3 separate regions of the Homo sapiens genome follow, and regions 2 and 3 are each reported to be linked to region 1. Evidence: microRNA targets listed by miRTarBase, many of them from high-throughput screens and not tested one by one. Region 1 holds a microRNA gene; each other region holds the end of a gene's coding sequence.

What was found. The annotated mature microRNA hsa-miR-548g-5p reads UGCAAAAGUAAUUGCAGUUUUUG and lies in region 1 at 1,886-1,908, shown strand. An mRNA with a match to its seed (bases 2 to 7 or 8) in the 3' UTR can be bound and repressed. Matches are read on the target gene's strand: a 7mer-m8 pairs with bases 2 to 8, a 7mer-A1 pairs with bases 2 to 7 and ends in A, and an 8mer does both.
Region 2: miRTarBase lists DCAF7 as a target of hsa-miR-548g-5p. Seed matches in the 3' UTR shown: 7mer-m8 at 3,255-3,261.
Region 3: miRTarBase lists RCAN2 as a target of hsa-miR-548g-5p. The part of its 3' UTR that is shown has no 7-base or 8-base seed match.

Annotation. Positions count from the first base shown.
Region 1 is chr21:18,683,797-18,688,042 of GRCh38, reverse strand. MIR548X (microRNA 548x) reads left to right here and starts at 1,879; the gene lies at 1,879-1,953. The region is part of intron 2 of MIR548XHG (MIR548X host gene); the gene reads left to right.
Region 2 is chr17:63,588,624-63,592,869 of GRCh38, forward strand. It overlaps DCAF7 (DDB1 and CUL4 associated factor 7), which reads left to right. Exons shown (of 7, transcript NM_005828.5): 7 at 377-4,246. The coding sequence ends at 549. Among named protein-coding and RNA genes, the nearest start is that of TACO1, 10 kb to the right of the region's middle.
Region 3 is chr6:46,219,794-46,224,039 of GRCh38, forward strand. RCAN2 (regulator of calcineurin 2) reads right to left here. Exons shown (of 5, transcript NM_001251974.2): 5 at 943-3,508. The coding sequence ends at 3,348. All of the region lies in intron 1 of LOC105375079 (a long non-coding RNA gene), which reads left to right. Among named protein-coding and RNA genes, the nearest start is that of ENPP5, 51 kb to the left of the region's middle.

The DNA.
Region 1 (4,246 bases):
TTGTTAAATAGCAATTACTCCTTTCCACCTGGAGTTCATCCCCTCATAATGTTGTCAAGGAGGCTTCCGCAAACAGTATTCACAAAGTTTCTTGCATGTTCAAAATGTGTTTTGTTTTTAAACTTCAAGAGCACCTGCTTTGTCTGACTCTTTCTTTCCTAAATTATCATAGATTTTTCTACACTCTCTCTCCTGGGTAGAATGTGGTTGTGGTTGTGACTATTTCACATTATAAAATGATGACTGTATAAATTATTATACAAACTAGAAGGGGTTTTGGAGTGAAATGGGTCAATATCATGGTATAATAATTATACCAGCATCATAGGCATAAAATCTGACTGTTTTGCACCAACTGTAATAAATGGAGTTTTGTCCTGAGACCAGCATGATATGTGTTATTTTACATTATCCCTAGACAAGTTGATAACCACATGGGGAAATGAGACAGGACATGAGAGGAGTCCAAAAATGAGTATGATAATAGAAAAGTCCTGCAAAGAACAGCTTTTACTCAATCCTTCAAAAATAGTCTATTCCTGATTAGAGAAAAAGCGCTTGGAGTATTTAAGCCTCTACACACATCTCTCAATGTTTAAGAGCTGTTAGCAGGAGAACAAAAGTTCGGAGATAATAGTTCTCCAATTCTGTAGACAAATCTGATTCTGGCTACTTGTGCATAGTACATAGTACATGGTGCTAGAGAAGCAGGTACTTACTATGGGGAATAGAATTACATGGGGACTTTATGCAAACAAATGTTTAAGGAATCTGATATGATATGAGTGACACACTAACAGTACACCATAATGCAGGGGAGACTTACTAATATGGTTTGACTGCATCCCCACCCAAATCTCATCTTGAATTGTAGCTCCCATAATTCTCACGTGTTGTGGGAGGGACTCATGGCAGATAATTGAATCATGGAGATGGTTTCTCCTATACTGTTCTCCTGTTAGTGAATAAGTCTCACGAGATCTGAAGATTTATTTCCTCTTTCACTTGTCTGCCAAGACAATGTAGACTTGTCTGTCTACATTCTCTCTTGTCTGCCACCATGTAAGACGTGCCTTTAGCCTTCTCCATGTTCGTGAGTCCTCCCTAGCCACCTGGAACTGTGAGTCCATTAAACCTCTTCTTTTTTATAAAGTACACAGTCTTGGGTATGTCTTTATCAGCAGTATGAAAACTGACTAATACACTTCACTGTCAATCTCTAATTTTCAAATTGTGGCTAGTTACAATTTCTAGGGGAAAAAGTTATACGAAAAGTGTTAGTGGCAGGAAAAAAAGACTCCATCACTTGTTAGTCCAAAGGCCTTAATTGGTATTTTTATCTTACTCCTCTTCCATCTATTCTTGTATACCTCTTGTATATGAGCATGTGCAGACATGTTATAAGTTAAGGTTTCTTTTTTGTCTTTAAATATACTTACATTCCCTCTGGGATAAAATTGTTTAAAAGACTATAATTTTTCTCATTGAATAACCATGGAAATACTTTCAAAAATTTAAGCACATAAAAAATGACATGTTTCTGGATTTTCTATTCTGTTCCATTATCTATACATCCAGTTGTAAACCTCAGCCATACTACCTCTATGACTGGTGCCTAAAAGGAGTATATAGGGAGTCTTGGAAGAAAAAGGTGCTGCTCATCTAATTTTGTTCTTCTTCCTAGAAATCATTTTGTATATAATATGTCCTTTGGATTTCCATATAAAATTTAGAATTAGCTTAACAATTTCTACAAAGAACTTTGCTACAATTGTTTTTTAAATATGCATTGAACATATAGATCAATTTGGGGAGAGATACTATCATAACAACATTAAGCCTTCCAATCTGTAATCACATTATACATTGCAATATATTAGGTTAGTGCAAAAGTAATTGCAGTTTTTGCGTTACTTTCAATCGTAAAAACTGCAATTACTTTCACACCAATCTTAATATTTCGATCTTGTTTTATTTTTCTCAGCAAAGTTTTGAAGATTTCAGTAAACAGGTATGGCATACATTATGCTAAGTTTATTCCTGTGTTCATGTTTTTAACGTTGTTACTAATGGCATGTGTTGTATTAATTTTTATCTTTCTCATATTGCATTGGCAAGAATGTTGATGCAATATTGAATTTCAGTGGTTAGACTGGATATCTCTACTTTGTTCTAGAACTTAGAAGGAAATAATTCGTTTTGTTCATGTAGGGCCAGCTTCATGCACTGTACCTTGTACAGTCATACAAGATTTCATGCTCAGAAGTGCCCTGTTTTTGATTTAACACTCTCTTATTACTGCCTTAAATTTTTAAATAATTTTACCTCTGTGTTTTAAAAGTGCAGTATGATGGGACACTTGAGTACAAGTGTGAGCAGAGATGTCTGTGATATACATGTTCAGTTTCTTACTGTTCTATTCACATACAGCGTTTGTGATGCCACGTGAACGCAGAATTCTTGTGGACCCACAGTGCTTGAAAGTTCAGCAAGACTCTGAGTACAAGATAAGCATTTTATGTCTATAAATGAGTGAGCAAGGTTGACAACTCCAAGAGGCTACACTTTCCATTCAAAACCAGAACTCAATTCAATTGCAAACAAGCAGTGACTTTCCAATAAACACAAACAACCATGGAACCCTATTACATAATTTATTTTCTCTGTTACTTTACTGCATTATTTAACTACCTATGCTGAAAGTGACACAGAAGGAAAGGAAAAGAAAGAAGGAACAATAGTTCTTTTTTTTTGTCCTTGCTTATTACTTATTCCATCTATTTTTGTTGTTGCTTTTTACTTGCTCTTTGTCAGTCTTTTATTATTTTTGTATTTCATTTTAAATACTGTTAATCAACTATAACTATTTTTATGGTTGTTTTGTGTTCACAATATATATCCTTATGTTATTAGTTTATTTTAACATAATACTGTACCATATAAACACACAGTATAAGCAGCGTGTTATGTCCCAAAAACGGTTTCAGAAAATGAAAGGAAACTTCTACATTGGTAATCATTGTTTGATTATGTATACCTTAGCTTCCATCAAATAACAGCTTCCTTGCTTAAAAACTGTAATAGTTCATCTAGTTCAATTTAGTTAGTGATAAATTCCTCTAACTTTTGTTGTTGGGAAAAGTATCAGTTTTACCTTGATTTGTTGTAGATATTTTACTCTATATAAAATTCTAGATTGATGGTTATTTTTCCTTCCTACTTCAAAGATATTTTATTGTCTACTGCCTGGCATAGTTTCCTTTTTTTTCTTTCTTTTTGCTTTCTTTTCTTTTCTCTTCTTTCTTTCTTTTTTTTTTTTTTTGAGACAGAGTCTCAATCTCAGACAGGCTGAAGGGCAGCATCATGAACACAGCTCACTGCTTGACCTCTCACACTCAAGCCATCCTCCCACCTCAGCCTCCTGAGCAACCAAGACTACAGGCGCAAACCACAATGCCTGGCTATATATATAATTTTTTTTTTTTTTTTTTTTTTTTTTAGAGACTGGGACTCACTATATTGGCCAGGCTGGTCGCAAACACCTGGGGTCAAGCATTCCTCCTGTCTTGGCCTCCCAAAGTGCTGGGATTTCAGGCATGAGCCACCATGCCCCGTCCTGGCATACTTTCTAATGAGAAATCTGTGAACATAGTTATCTTTGATTTTCTATACACTATTACTAGATGTTCATCCACGGCATGTGTGGTTTACATTGTGCAACAGATTGAAGCAGATAAAAGCCATTGTCTGTACATCATACTTCTTTCTAATACATGCTCTGCAATTTTCCAGCCAAACCCACCTGTCTGAAATTCTATCTCTATCTCCTCATATCAAGGAGATTGTCATGCTGTGCTTTGGATACCTCTCTGCATCAAGTTCAAGAAAATCCCTTCAGACAGAAAGTCAGAGTAATAACCGAACTTACATCAATTTTCTCTCTTCTCTTAGAGTTCATAGTTCTGTGCTGCTTATGGTAAAATATCTGACAATTTATTAGTTCTACGTTTTATCCTGTTTCCTATTTTTGTAAGGCAAACAGACAAGTTCACATCTGGTTATTCTACCATAGTTAGAGGCTTTAAATTTTTATTTTAATACACTTACTATGGTGGCATTTTAGAGTTCTGTTTTTTTAAATTTTTGTCTTCTCCTCCTCCCTCTTCCACACCCTGCATTTCTGTTTGTCTACTCTTTGACTGATGCATTGTTCCAGCTCAGCTTTGAGCACGTTGGTTCCTACGCT
Region 2 (4,246 bases), not on the chromosome of region 1:
GATCTTTGTAACCACTCAAGTATTTTAAGTGGCTGCAAATGACATGTTTGGTATCCCCTTGTCCACTCCTGATACCTGACCCAGATGAGAAGGACTCATTAGTGCAGTGGATAGAGCCTGGGGACATCTGGGAGATGGAGTCAGGGCCTAGATTTGAGTTCTGGCTCTGCCACTCACTTGGCTGAATAGCTGTGTGATTTGGAACAAGTGCCTTAACATTTCTGAATCTCGATTTCCTCATCGATAAAATGGGGGCTTAAAATAGAACCGCCATCACGGGGGTGCTTTGTAAACTGTGACTTGCTCCTGAAATGCAGGGATCATCATCCGCATTGCCTCACTTGTGACCTTGCTTGCTGGCTTTCTTTGTCCCTAGCGGATGACCACCAGGCTCTCATCTGGGACATCCAGCAAATGCCCCGAGCCATTGAGGACCCTATCCTGGCCTACACAGCTGAAGGAGAGATCAACAATGTGCAGTGGGCATCAACTCAGCCCGACTGGATCGCCATCTGCTACAACAACTGCCTGGAGATACTCAGAGTGTAGTGTTGGTGGCGCTGTGCCCACGAGGCAGGGGCTTTTGTATTTCCTGCCTCTGCCCCACCCCCAAAGTAAGAAGAAACATGTTTCCAGTGGCCAGTATGTCTTTCATTGCTTTGCACCCACTGTTACCAGAAGCTGCTCTAGGAGTTCCTGGCCAGTCACCCCATCGCCCTCTGTGGCAGACTCAGTGCTGTGTGGCGCCTCCTCAGCCCAGGGCTGAGTTTTAAGATTTTCTCTCCTTTCCTCTTCTCCTTTGGTTCCTCAATTAAAAAATGTGTGTATATTTGTTTGTCAGGCGTTGTGTTGAGGAGCAGTTCACGCACTGGCTGTGTCTATTCCTCTGCCCAGGTGTCTCTGTTTGCTGCCCAAGGCAGCAGTTCATGTCTCGTCCATGTCCATGTTCGTGTTAGCACTTACGTGGGAACAAATACCAATTTGTCTTTTCTCCTAGTATCAGTGTGTTTAACAAATTTTAACTTTGTATATTTGTTATCTATCAGGCTAATTTTTTTATGAAAAGAATTTTACTCTCCTGCTTCATTTCTTTGTCTTATAGTCCTCCCTCTTTGCACCTTCTTCTCTTCCCTCAGTGCCTGGAGCTGGTACTGGGCCCCTGGCCCCATGAGCAGTTTGCCTTCTTGAGTCACTGCCTGTGTAGTACATACCTGACCGGGAGTCCAAACCACCTTGGTGCTCTGAAGTCCACTGACTCATCACACCTTTCTTAGCCTGGCTCCTCTCAAGGGCATTCTGGGCTTGTAAACAGACATAGGAAGCCTCTGTTTACCCTGAAGCACCACTGTCCAGCCCATTGGTTCCCACTGGCAGCATGGTAGAGCTGAGAGAAACAGGCTCTCAGGGTACCTGACTTGAGGGGAATCGTTTCATGAAGCTGAACTTCAAGCATATTTCCAGTACATTCTTTCAGAGTCTGTTTTTCCATCCAAATATAAGCCCCAGGCCATTCCACTTAGTGTCTTTTCAATGATAGGCAAGAATGATATCTGAGTTGAACTTCGGTGCTTCTGTTGTTTGAGTTTACTGTGCCTGGTGGTATATTGGGCATTCTTTGGATTGAGTGTTCTGAGGTGAGAGAGTCTTCCCGAGGCATCCTGTCTGTGCTTCCAACCCTGAACAAGACCTTACATGAGAGATGGACTGATGGACTGCGGCAATCCTGGGCTGTCAAGTGGATAGATAGTTAAAAAGCATTATACTGTGGGTAATGAAAAGGGAGGAAAAAAAAAGAAGGAAAAGGAATTATAGACCCCCAGGGTCAGCCAGTTAAGAGCTCTACCCACACCTGTCAACCCCTCTCTCCCCCAGTTTAGGTTCTGAGCAGTATTGGACTTGTAGCCTGCAGTTGTCTTTTGACTTGCAGGCCGCAGGTGTCTTTCTGTTATGTGAATGAGTTCCATGGAGGGGCATATGTGTGATTCCACCGTTAGATGAGCCCTTGGGGCAGGCAGTTTGGGATGTGCTCTTGGGGGAAAGTTGGCTGTTTCCTTGCGCTCTGCTCCTACCCGAAGGTTTTTAAGTCCCTCTGAATTGCTCATCTGAGATTAGTAGAGTAGCAGGCCTGAAGGATGATGGTTTTGTCCTCTTTGGTTCTCACCTGCTTGAGAAGTAAAACAGTAACTTTGTTCTTCTGGGCCCTTAAGCTTTTTTGGTTAAGTCTTCCTTTTCAGAAGTAGATGTCATTATATGCCAAAAGTCTAGCTCTTTGCTTTACCATACAGGGACCTGTCCCAAAGAAAAAGGCTCTTTTTTTAGCCAGCATATTTCCCCTTCTACCCTTTTACTTTGTTGTTCTGATTTTAGGACTCTGGCTGGCCATGTGCTTGTGGTTGCCTCTCCTGCATTTGCCACTGGATTTGCACTGCATCGTTTGGAGATACAAAGCGAGCAGTTCTTGGTCAGAACCCTCCTCTGCTTTTCATTGTGTTTGATAATGGTTACTGGGTCCTTCTCTCAAGGGTAGCAAGGCCAAGCTGATGGCTGCTTGTTTAGGAGGCCATCAGTTCCTTCCTGTGGAGAAGGGTCTGAAATGGAAGTCAGTGGTAGAAGGGGCTGGTCTGCTGGGCAGGGCTTACATCCACTGAGTTCTAAGATTCCTTTCCTGATCTGCACCTACGCCTGGTCTGTATGGTGGAATTTGTCAGCTGGAACTCAGAAACAACAACTTGAAAAAAAAATAATAATTAGAACATATTTGCATAAGATAGCTATTTACTCTGGAAACCAACAACTTTTGAGATTTCCCTTGCCCTGTGGACGCCCAGCTCCTGTCATCCTTCCTTAGGTCCTGCAGTACAGTCTTCCCCTGAATGCCACCGGGGACCCAGGGGGACTCCACCCCCCTAAGCAAGCACACACATACTCACAGTTGATGAGTTGCTGGTCTTTGAGTCCCAGCTCTCTTACCCTCCCTTTACTCCACCAGCCCGACGACCCATGACTGAGGAGGGGATTTCTACAGTCTCAGGATTTAGAAAGTCTGTAAGCCATCCATGCTCCAGAAAGCACCGATCTGTTGTAGTTGCAAAAACAACTCTGTAATTTGTTGAGGTTCTCAAACTGACAGCCAGCGAGACTGGGTGGGAGGCCCTGGATCTGTTCTCCCTGACTGCGGGAGGAGCAGCCACTAGGACTTTAGCAGGAAGCCCACATGGAGGCTCCGCCAGGCTGTGGCCCAGCTGGTGATGGCCCTTTTGCTCCTGGCAGCCTGAGGCACAGCTGCCTGTATTGTCCTCATCTGTTCTGACTGAAGGATGGAGGTGCTGAATAAATTAGGCCTCAGGCCTCTACCACCAGAGAGCTGGAGAATGGGTCCACGTCATTCAAGGACCTGAATTTTTTATGCTCAGGAGCATTGGAATCCTCTTCTTCCAGGGAGGAATTAGCCTGCAAGGTTAGGACTTGAAGAGGGAAGGTATTTAATAACTGGGCGAGGATGGGTGTGGTGGCTCACACCTGTAATCCCAGCATTTTGGGAGGCTGAGGTGGCCAGATCCCAAGGTCAGAAGATCGAGACCATCCTGGCTAACATGGTGAAACCCCATCTCTACTAAAAATACAAAAAAAAATTAGCCGGGGGTGGTGGCGGGTACCTGTAGTCCTAGCTACTTGGGAGGCTGAGGCAGGAGAATGGCGTGAACCTGGGAGGTGGAGCTTGCAGTGAGCCAAGATCGTGCCACTGCACTCCAGCCTGGGCGACAGAGCAAGACTCCGTCTCAAAAAATAAAAAAAAAAAAAAAATAGGTGAAAATTCCTTATAAATCCAGGATTGGCTCTGAGAGAACTGGCTAAGATTCAGGAAGAAACAAAAAATTCAGAATCCTACAAGGTTTTGATGACAATTAGGGCCAAAATTTTAGGAGGAGATGTAGGATGCAGGAGAAAATTAAAGTGTTTTCTTTATATCAGAGGAGGAAATAGTAGAGGTCAGTGAAGGTCTGGGGTAGGGAAACATTCAGACTGTCCATTGCATGGCTGTGGAGTGAGACTGCCCTTAGCCTGGGTCAGCCTTCCTGGGCCATAAATTGGGCATCCGTGATGCTAGGTAACTGTGGGAACAAAATGACAGCTTAGAGCAGCCATGGGTGATGTTTGGTGGTAAAAAACCTACAGGCGTTTGGGGTCCCATGATTGTTCCAGACCATGACTCTTCCTGGTTGTGGGTTTGTTACAGAGCAGGAGA
Region 3 (4,246 bases), not on the chromosome of region 1:
GCTAGGTGCATGCCCTGGAGTGAATTGCTCCCAGAGGCATGTTAGCTTTAGCAGATATTACCAAACAGTGCTGTGAAGTGAGCACCAGTTGACACTCCACCAGTGGTGCATGACAGTTCCCCTTCCTTCATATCCTTACCAGAACTTTTTATTTCTCCAGACTTAATTTTAGTCATTCTGATAGATCTGTGTAGTAGCTCTGAGATTATCATTTGCTTTTGTCAGATAAGCAATAAAATTGAGCATCTTTTGAATGCTAATGGGTCATCTGGGTATTTTGTGTATGTCTGTGTGTATGTGAATTGCCTGTATGAAGTGCCTTTGAAATTTTTTGATGATCAAAGAAATGGATTGTCTGTTTTCCTTATTTGTAGGGTTTTCTTTTTACATTTTGGATATAATTTATTTTACAACTACATGTGTCTCAAATATCCTTTTCCAGTCTGATGCTGTCCCTTTTCATTCTCCTAATACCCATCTGATGAACAGAAGCTCTTCATTTTAATGGCATTTAATGTATTAATCATTTAGATTATGATAGTGCTTTTCTCCTGAATAATAATTTTTTTGCTAACTCAGGTCTCTTATAGTGCTTTTAACAAGAGAATAGAGTGGGAAGACATTAAAAGAGGTTTTTAGTACACTTGAAATGGCTTTTAGGACCAAGATGTTGAAACATGGCAATAAAACAGGGAGCTCTCCCAGTTCCTCTTATCAGAGGCCAACCCTGCCCTCCAGGCCCTGCTCAAATTCCCCTTCCCCCAAGAGAGGGCTGCCAACCAGCTTCCCCCACTTTCAGGAAGAGCCTAGGTATATGGGTTAACCCCATACGTTGGGGACTTCTTAGAAAAACTCTAGGTTGAAATGCAGTCCCCCACAATTACCCCTCAAGAATATTCAACTCAGGTCGACAACACAGAAATTAAACCACATGGACAAAGAGTCATTCACCAGATATATTTGAAGTCTAAGCTCTTTGAGCTATACACGTGCACAAATGATTCAGTTGGTGGAAATCTTCCCCTTCCCCTTCATTGTTAAAGTTTTCAAACTTAAAATAGTGCTAAAGAGATTTGCATAATGTGCGTCATGGAAATGCTGAGGCGATTCTGACTTTCACAGTGCTAGGAGGTTCCCTTGCAACACTTCAAGGAGTCTTTCCATTTCTTATCGTTCTCCTAGGAAAAGCCCCTCTTTTCCCCCCTCCCCAAACCCAACCTAGTGAAAGAATTACTTGATCTGAGACAGGTTAACATTGACACAGAGCAATAAGTTTTACTAAGACTAACTCCAGAGGCCATACACTTCATTGTGTTTCTTTTATGACTACACAGAATGGTCATTTCAACTTTTACTAAGTTGTTAAAAATGTCAGATGTGTCTTTTAAAAAACATTTAAAAATCATTTTCAAATACTTTCTCTCATCTAGATTTCTTTAGAACCTGCATTCTGGAAATTCAGGGTAGCTTAAAAAATCAAGTCAAATGACCCACAGATGATTGAGAAGAGTCAGCTTTGAAAGGCTGGATGCTGCAGTGCTCTGCATCTGAATAGCGGAGCCTACTATTTCTTCCACTAGAGGACACCATTTCTCCACTACTAAGTCTGTAGTCGTTTATCATCAATGAAAAACCAAAAACCTCCACAGCAAAGGAAAGTCAAAGCATATGCTTATTGTACACTCCTCAGATTTTATTTTTAAAAGGAGTTTTCATTTTCCTTATGGAAACTCAGGATTTTACAAGCAATGCTCTCCTCAGTTTCACCAGTACTGTGTCCAGTACTATATTGCTATATTCACAGTAAAACGGACTTTAATTTCTGAGTGATCAGTCTATGTTTTAAGTTTCTGATGAAACTAACATACACCTTAGTCAAAAACCACAACAATCCCTCAATCTGTTTGCTGTGTTATTGTTCTTGTGTGTTTTTCTGAGGCTTGGGTAATGAAAGTACTTCCCCACTCCATTGTAATCTGCGTTTGCATCTAAAGTAATTCATTAATGTACAGGAGTAGATGAGGCCTGGCACACATAGCAGAAGGTAATGGTTCTATAGGTGTATCTTCTGTAATGCACTTTGGGCTAGAGAAATAGAAAAATCACACGTAACAAAAACAAATAACTTTTTTGAGCACACGGGTGTCGCGTGAGTAGGACCGGCATACATGTAGCTATCATCCTTCCCCATTTTAACATGCTCAGCTGCTGCTGCATTCTGGGGATTTAGCTTCATCCCAATAATCTACAACTGACACTTGCATCTTTATTTAAAAACAAGTGGTCTTGATAGCAAAGATGTTGGCTAATCATGTATATATTGGCATTAGATGTTTTGTGTCCTTTCAAAATTCAGCATTATCCTTATTAGAGTGTAATATTATCAGAGTATCTGTATTAGTATATGAAGGCATTCATAAGCAATGCACATTATGTTTTGAAGCAGCTAATTGTCGAACAATCACTAAATAAAAAACATCCAGATTTTTTAAAAGCACAGCTGAAACATTTGTACAAATATACAAAGAGAGAAAACAATCATTCAGACACCATGAAACTTTTGTAATAAATAGGTTTGTCTGAAATCAGTCTCTATCACCCTGGACAAGCCTCCCCAACGAGGCTGGGAGAGTTCTACAGGGGAGTGGTGTTTGAAATCTATTGAGGAATATCTTTGGGGCCAAGGTCAATTTTGCCTCCAGGAATTTCAACAGAGCTATGGTGTATTGACTCACAATAGTGAATATACCCAGACTTGTTGAGCTGGAATATTCTGATCATTTTCCTAATCTAGATAGGACATGGCTGGATGCTGACAATCTGTGAGTTATAAGATATCCTCAAATAATGAAAATAAATGCTGGTGATCATGCATGTCCTGGGAATGTTGGGATGCAGAGGACTGAGTGAGACCAGATAGGGATATCTCATGCAGTCAAAGTCAAGTTTACATATGGTCCTATTTAAGTGGCCAGGAGAGAACAACGCACACACATCAGGACTGGGACTGAAACAGCTCACAAACAACACAGGTGCTATTTGTTACTGATGTCTCTGGCTTGGATCAACATGAGAGAACAAAGATATAGGCTGTGCTGATTGTTTAATAAGAAAATACTACTTTTTTCCCTAGAACCTTCTAAATAATGGGTTATACTTAATGGGTATGATATGATCAGGAGACATATCACCTTTTCCTAGCCCTTTTGTCCGAGAGGCTTGATAACAAGGAAGGAATCTCAAACAACCAAACACCCAGGAATTTAAAGGCAATTTTTTTTGACAAACAACAGGGGGAAAAAGCATGATAAAGAGGAGACGGCTATTATCGAGAAGGAGCAGGCAGCTCAGTTGGACACGGAGGGTGGCAGGCCAGGACGCCGAGTTTGGATGATTTTTGGCTTTGGGGAAGTCTTTGGGTCCTCTTCTTCCTCTATGTCACTGTCGCACACGTGCACGACGACACTTGGGGTGGACTCAGTCCCTGCATGGAGCTCATACTTCTCTCCTGAAAAGCAAGAAAAATGGAAGTGAGAAAGAGGGGGGGATTTCAAAAGAGATCCTGGAGCAGGGTCTGCTTAGGAAATGACAGGAGCATTTTCCAGGGTCTCAGGAAGCCTGTGATCTTATGCAGGGATGGCACAGGGTGTTGGCAAGTGGAAAGAGATCAATTTCCTCCTATCCTGGCTCTGCCACTTATCAACTGTGCAACCCCAAACAAGCCACTCAATACCTCTTAGCCTCCACATCCTTTACCGTAAATTTCAACATGGTAATACTTCCACTCTGTAGGATGGTGGCGAGGACTGGATGGACTTGGCAGTTAGTCGTATTAGTTTCTCTTCTATTTTCCAACTTTGCTGCTAGTTTTTGAGCAACCTTGGGCCAATCACTTCACTTCTTTATCTTTTGAATATGGTAGTTTCTGAGTTCCCCTCCAGCTCTACACTTCTTACAGCCAGAGCTGCTCCAGGATGGAATAAGGTGGGGTTATCACATGCCCAGGATTCAGTGGTTACTGGGTAACTGGGTTAGATGACCATCAAGGCCCTTTCTAGTTCCAAGTGTCTACATTCTTGACTGGCTCATATTACAGTCAAATGGCTGTTAGCTGACTGGCTTTCTGTCTTTCTGTTGCTTCATTAGATGTTTCTTGAGCATCTCTCGTGGTCTATTGCTGTTCATAAAGGCTACAAGGTAGAATAAAAAGTATTTGTGCCTTTCACAAGTGCACAGTCCAGTGGAG